Homo sapiens: one gene and its partner. The protein of the gene in region 2 purifies or fractionates together with the protein of the main gene of each other region. This does not show direct contact. Each region holds a gene or a part of one and is shown on either strand. Other genes may lie near its edges.

Region 1 (3,500 bases), on a different chromosome or scaffold from region 2:
AAACACATCCTATCTATATCACCATAGCAACAGCTATGGACTTTTCCCTCTCTCAGATGTGTTTTGAGCAGGATCAGAGATTCCAGAGGCTGAGAGCTAGCAAGGTCAAGGTGTTTCTATCTTGCTGTCAGAGGGAGCAGCAAGTGGGTCAGGTTGCACAGCTGCTCACCCATTCTTTGCTTAATGCTATCTAGTGAGAGCTATTTCATAATCCCCTTCTGGAATAAGCTTCAAATATAATCCACATTATGTGGTATTATCAATATACATCCCTCAATAGACTTTACACATCTGTGGGCAGAAGCTGCACTCTGGCCCATGCCTAGCTCGGAGCCCACCACATGGCAGAAGCACAAGAGCATGTGAAGAGTGGATGAAATTAACAGGAGGAACTGGCTATAGATCTTGCATGAAGTGGCTGGTACAATTCTCCGTGTACCCTTCTGCCCCCTTGAAAAGAAGAACTTAAGGAAGGATTTTTAAATGAACTTGTCTAATGTATCCCAAATCAGGAAGATTCTTCTTGTCCAGCCCCCACTACTGCAATGGAATCTAAGGCATGTTTCTTTTCAAATATTATTTTTTCCCTGGCTAATGTATTTTCTTCTTTTCATAAATATCCTACTTTATACTGGACATTAATCTAACCATTTAGACATGATTAGCAAGCTAAGGGTCTTACTTATTAAAAACAGTTCATTTTTCCTTCTTAAAGAAATGGAGACATTTGAATCCCTGAATGTGCTCATTTATCACCAATCCCCAACAAGGAATCCAGGAGTTCTCTGTGTAGGACATGAGTAATTTTTATAAAAATGCAGTTGCTGACTATGTCATACATCCATGCAGCTTTATAAAACAAAGCAAATGATTACCATCAATTACAATAACCTCACTAGACAAGACTGCAATTAATCTATAGCTCTTCAGATAACGACTGTTGCACTGTGCCAAGGAAAATGCCTGGCATTAATTGACTTATCACGATCAGCAGTGATAGATAGGGCAGATGGCAATGTGATCATTCACTGTCAACAAAATAAACACATGCTTTCTTGCTAGAAGTGTCTACTTGGGTCCTCTCAAAGGATAGCCAAAAATAGAGGCCAAAGGTGGCTTTGAAGGTAGCACAAAATAAAAATTAAGTTAACCAGATTCGCGCAATCTACCCACATAACAAACCTGCATGTGTACACTTTAATCTATAATAAAAGTTGAAATTCATTTTTTAAAAAGTTAACCTTCAGGGTGAGATATGTTGACTTTTACTGAGGCTAATCCTCAGTAGAATACAATTGAAGGAAATTTCTATAAGAAAATCATGGATTGGTGCAGTGGCTCACGCCTGTAATCTCAGCACTTCGGGAGGCCGAGGTGGGCAGATCACTTGAGGTCAGGAATTCAAGACCAGCCTGGCCAACATAGTGAAACCTCACCTGTACTGAAAAAAATTAGCCAGGTGTGGTGGTGCACACCTGTAATCCCAGCTACTAGAGAGGCTGAGGTAGGAGAATCGCTTGAACCCAGGAGGTGGAGGTTGCAGTGAACCGAGATCATGGCACTGCACTTCAGCCTGGGTGACACAGCGAGACTCCATCTCAAAAAAAAAAAAAAAATTATGGATTGTATAGAATTTCAGCATCAGAAGATACATTAAAACTGACAGTTTCCCCTGCTCATTCGAATGTGAGTCACCTTTATGGAGTCACCAAATTCTGTTCAGTGCTTAATAACTCCAGTAATGGGGCTGAGTGCAGTGGATCACACCTATAATCCTAGCACTTTGTGGGGGGGCCAAGACAAAAGAATTGATTGAGCCCAGGAGTTAGAGGTTACAGTGAACTGTGATGGTGCTACCACTGTACTTCAGCCTGGGTAACAGAGTAAGACCCTTTCTCTCTAAATAAATAAATAAATAAATAAAATAATTCCAGTAATATGAAGTCACAATTTTCAGAGGCAAACTCATTTCATCACTGTATCGTTTTCATCGTTAGAACACATATGCAGCTGAATTCCATCTTTTTGTAGCTACCACCCATTGGCCATAGGTGTCTTCCCTTATGCTACACAGAAGATGCCAAACTCTTCTTGCTTGCTGAAATCCGTAAATGGGATCTCAAAAGTCAACTGCTTATCGCACTACTTTGCATATAGCATTGTTTCGGGGACTCTGAAATTCTGGTCTCTTGCACCTAAACCCATACCAGTTCGTCTATAGACCCCTGACATTGAGAGGCTTGGAAAGAAATGTGATACGATGACTGCATCTACCCAGGGCAAGGTAGATTATACCTATGCTGAGGCCAGTGCTCAAGCCTACATTGGAGCAGTGGATGTGTGTGTGTGACCACCCTACTTGGGAAGCTGTTCTCCAAGTCTCATTAGTCTAGATAGCATCCCAGCCTTGCCATTTCCAGGGGACAATTACCAATGTGTGTGCCTTCCCCCCTTTTTAGCAGTGTGATTTTGTTGATTAAGTCCCCTTTGTTTAGAAAACTGGGATAATTCAGGCGGAGTTTCACCTAAAATTGTCACAGTGGTCGCTAACCAAAATCTCTTGGGGAAAGTTTTACAAATGTACAAACCTGGATCCTATATCCTGAGACTGATTCAGTTGGTTTTGGGAAGGACTGAGAGGAAAATATTTTGACAAGGCTTCCCAGTTCATTGTGATTTGCAACCCTGCTTACATGCTTTCTTCACTCATTGCTTTCTTCACTGGGAACACATAATAATGTACCATTGTGGAAGTGCTTCACAAACCTAATCGTCAGACTCTCCTGGGAACTTTTAAAATGCAAATTCTTTGGTGCACCTGATACCTGTGGTCTGGTGTAGGTCTAGGAAAATTCATACACTAAGAGATCAAATTACTATATGTTTCCCTTAAGGATTTTGGAAGCACTCATTTACTCTAAAATTGTGGTTCACGTATAAGTTACAAAGCACCCTTATCATATACTGAAGAAACAAGTGTCACTAAAGAATAATACAATGTAAAGATTTTAGCCTAGTAAACATCTACATTTTATCAATTATTCATTTAACAAATATTTCTACTCTGAAGCAGTGTTGTGATAGGTGCTGGAATATGACAGAATATGGGGGAGAAAAAGAAATAACAGCAAACAAAAAAATGAGCAAGTAAGTCAACAGATAAAATAATTACAAACCTTAAAATAACTTAAGAGGAAGAATTCATCTAATTTTGAATATTCTCTAATTCAGACCGGCAGTACCCAGTTATGCTCAAATTGTGACTTTCTGTCCTGCTTTCATTACATTTCTTGTTGTACTCTAGTTCAGAATCTGCAACTTGGGAGCCTGGCATTACAATGCCTTTGGCAGACATCCCTAATCAATCCTAGTATTTTTTTTCCCTACAGATCCAGGAGGGAGACCCATACTACAGCTCAACCCTATTGTTTATAGAGTCATGATTAACAGATCACAGATAAAATGCTAGATGAAATCATGCAGCTTCTCTAGCACACACT
Region 2 (4,123 bases):
AACAAGGCGAAACCTCGTCTCTACAAAAAATAGACAAATTAGCCGGGTATGGTGGAGGGCGCCTGTAATCCCAGCTACTTGAGTGGCTGAGACAGGAGAATCACTTGAACCCAGGAGGCGAGGTTACTGTAAGCTGAGATAGCGCCACTGCACTCCAGCCTGGGCAAGAGAGCGAGACTACGCCTTGGAAAAAAAAAAAAAAAATTCTGAATTTGGTTAACCTTTCCTTTTGTAAAGTAACAATACAAATAATTATACTCAGTGCTTCCAATTCCAGTTCCACACACATTCATACCTCCAGGTCTTTATGGACTCTACCCCTTCAACTGTCTACCTTTTCATACCCTCTCCTTTTCTGGATTCTTCCCCTCTTTCAACTATCTTGATTGGTACATATTCCCCAATCTCTTGATCCAGAAGCAATCTGTCTTCCCACAGCCCTTTTCTGTAGTGTCTGCTGGAACTTCCTGTGTTATATCACACTTAAGTATACTAAACTCTCTTCTACTATGAGTATCCTTGAAAGGAATAAAGATCCCTGCTTTATTCAGCCTTATGTCCCTCAGTATTTAGTGCCTGGATCTAAACATTTATTGGGTGTGCTCCGTACAATGAAGAGGAAAACATTCAACAATGTTTTTCAGGCACTGTGTGCCATGCACATGCATGTTCTTTTATCTATTATTTGATATAAGCAGAAACAAATGCCAATGATAGAGAACTGCTCTAAATCCACTAAGAGACACAGACATGCAACTAAATTAATACAATATAACTTTCCTGTTAAATTAACGGATAAGTAGGATGCTGTGAGAGAAACATTACGTATGTTGAAAACTGTTCTGATTCCATACACTATGTGTTAGGAAACTAAGCCTAGATTTTCAAAGGGCCCAATGACTAGAAAGGTTTCAAGAGTGGTATAATAAGGGCCCCTCACTCTCACAAAATTTCTTACACAACCTGAAACTAACATTCCACCCATGTAACAACCTTAAGTGCAAGCAGGGAGCAACAAACATCCCTCTATTCTCCGAACAGCAATCGGCAATAGCAGGTCAGGTCTTCTCATTATCTTTATACAGACATGTTCATCTATCCCTCCTTCTCACATTTATCTGAATTGTGCACCATTTCCATACATCACGTGCCACTCCCATGCCCCAAACTGATCTATTTAACCTTTAAGATTCTTCTCAGGCTGGGTGTGGTGGCTCATGCCTGTAATCCCAGCACTTTGGGAGGCCGAGGCAGGCGGATCAACTGAGGTCAGGACTTCGAAATGAGCCTGAGCAACATGCAGAAACCCCATCTCTACTAAAAATACAAAAAATTATCAGGGCATGGTAGCACATGCCTGTAATCCCAGCTACTCGGGAGGCTGAGGTAGGAGAATCGCTTGAACTCAGGAGGCAGAGGTTGCGGTGAGCAGAGATCATGCCATTGCACTCCAGCCTGGGCAACAAGAGCGAAACTCCGTCTCAAAAAAAAAAAAATTATTCTGAAGGCCTGCTTTACATCCTCCAAATGTATATTGAACTACTGTTACTTAATCTGTACCTCTCTTCTTTAAAAATTGATAAAGTTAATTATTAACATTTTATATAACTTGGAGTTAGGCAAAACTGGTTTCAGATCCCAGACAGATCTGCTACTGCCTTGCAATGTAAAGTTGGGCAAGTTACTAAACTTGCTTTAATCTATTTCTTCCTCATTAAAATGAGAATTAAATTGGGTGATGTGCATAAAATGCCTACTATACACATATATTCATGCACACATACGTCACATACATATATACTTATTTAATTTTGATTTATTCTTACTTTCCTAGAAGATGCAGACTCTCTTTAAAACTCAAGGCAAAAGCAATGAAACATAAAGTGGGTACTAAAAATTGGACCAGTTAGTTGATGTAAAGGAGCCTCCCAACTTTAAAATGTGCCCTCATGGTAGCTCACACAAGCCACCCTCAGCAGATTTTTTTCACGTCTCCTACTGAAAAACATGAAAAACTCAAAGGTTTGACAAAGCCCGGATCCACAGTTCCTAGGTTGGTGGCCTAACACTGACATCTGTCCCAAGAATCTGTCTTTCTCACAGCAAACCTGATAAAGGTCAAGAGAAAAAACAACTTATATTACATAAGCCAAACAATACATAAATTAACACTTTTTAATCTGCATTATCTTCCTGGAGCAAGCAAAACCACTTCTGCAAATTGCGAACTCAGAAGAGAAAGTCCAAACGGGATGGGAACTGAGTCATCAATTTAAAACCATCAACCACTGACTGCCCCACCCCCAGAAAGAGGACTCTACCACGACCTACTACAGTGAAGCCCTGGGCATATCACACTCAGCCACTACTCTAAAAATCCCAACCTCCGACACCCAAGTCCCGCCAGTAGGAGCAGCACCCAGTCCCACCCTCGGCTCTGAGCCAGAGTCAGGTACCCTCACATCAGGGTCCCCACCCCAGATCCTCAGGTCCCAATCCAAGCTCTACCCCAGCCCGACACCGGCACTCACCCGGGCGGTGACCTTATATACTGTGTAGCCCCTCGGGTGTCGCTGGGGCTCGGTGACAGTGTAGAAACGGGCCAGGTCGGCACTCCGCTCCCGGTAAGAGGTCATCCTCCCGCCGCCTCTGCCGCCGCCGCCACCCGCCCGGGATCATGAGGGAAACCCGGCGCCGCCGCGGTCCAGGTTCCCCAACGCAGCGGCGAAGCGGCGAGGGGGCGGTGGCTCCAAGGCGGCTCCACGGCGGCGCCTCAGCTGCACAGCTCTGCTTCCGGGTCAGCAGAGAAGCTTCCGGGCCAGGCTATCTCCCGCTTCTAGGGGGAGGGGAGACTCCTCCTTAGATTCTAGCCCCTTTGGGGCACCTGGGACTGGCCTGTAGTTGAAGACTAAGGGGTCGCGCTGCCACCCCCGTCACTGCGGAGACCTCAGGCCTCTCCACTAAAGACGACCTCTTGTACGCTAGCTCCGTCACCTTTTATGAGATTTTATGAGAGTTGGTATAGCCACGCCACACCGGGAGAGCGTGGTCCTCCCTGCCTCCGCCCCGCCGTGGTACAAACTTAAGTGGAGTGTTGAAGGGATGGAGAGATACCATAGCCTAGCACCTTCTTTCCTTACCTATTCACAGCCTATCATTTTAAATACCCACAGCAACATCTCATTCTCTGAGACATATCCCTTACTTCTTTCTAAGACGAATTTCCTTCCATTGAGCGCCTTTCTGTAACACATCTGCACAGCAAGCCCCCAACCCAAAAAAGCTCCCAAGCCAATATCAATCTTTTAAAAATCCCCACAGGTTCGAAAATCTGGAGTCCGCCTCTGGCTAGAAGAAAGAAATATGTCACTCGACCTCTCCGAGTCACTCACTACAGTTTCCAATTTCAGCTGAGGTTGTTATCAACGCTTGGCAGTTCCTTTATCTTTTTGTGATCAAGGTTCCTTTTCATTCCACAAAATATTCATGCCAAGTCTTTGCCATTATCCTAAAGACTCTGTTCCTCTTCCTTTTGCCTCCCTACTCTCCGCACCACCACTCTTCTTTACAGGGAAAAAAGAAGAGGAAGAAGCAGCTATGGCCCTTAGTACCAATTCCTTTGTCTTCTCACATTTCCATGCCAGTCTGAAACGTACACATATCACTTGCTCATTTTTACAGCTAATGACTCCACATGTGATCTGAATCCCATCCTCTTTGGCAAACCTTAAGACACTGTTTCAATGACATTCCAAATCTCCTTTCTGTATGTTTAATCTCTTTCTCACCACTGGCTCCTTCTTTTCAACCTACATATATCTAAGTCTATTAGTCATTCATTAAACCTGAATTCACCACCTACTATGTGCCAGACATGATGCCAATTTGGCATTGGAGTTACAAAGATAGTCCCTGTTCTCCGACCGGGCGCGGTGGCTCACGCCTGTAATCCCAACACTTTGGGAGGCCGAGGCGGGCGGATTACCTCAGGTCAGGAGTTCGAGACCAGCCTGGCCAACATGGTGAAACCCCGTCTCTACTAAAAATACAAAAAATTAGCCAGGCGTGGTGGCAGGCGCCTGCAATCCCAGCTACTTGGGAGGCTGAGGCAAAAGAGTCGTTT

What was found. The genes of interacting proteins can lie anywhere in the genome.
Region 1: the proteins of RPS6KC1 (region 2) and CA10 purify together in Homo sapiens (co-immunoprecipitation; one large-scale study listed by IntAct). This does not show direct contact.

The regions. Positions count from the first base shown.
Region 1 is NC_000017.11:51,742,715-51,746,214, forward strand, and holds part of CA10 (carbonic anhydrase-related protein 10 precursor), read right to left. Parts: intron 1-3,500. UniProt on the Homo sapiens protein: Does not have a catalytic activity.
Region 2 is NC_000001.11:213,049,918-213,054,040, reverse strand, and holds the start of RPS6KC1 (ribosomal protein S6 kinase delta-1), read right to left. Parts: upstream 2,801-4,123; 5' UTR 2,637-2,800; coding exon 2,532-2,636; intron 1-2,531. UniProt on the Homo sapiens protein: May be involved in transmitting sphingosine-1 phosphate (SPP)-mediated signaling into the cell. Plays a role in the recruitment of PRDX3 to early endosomes.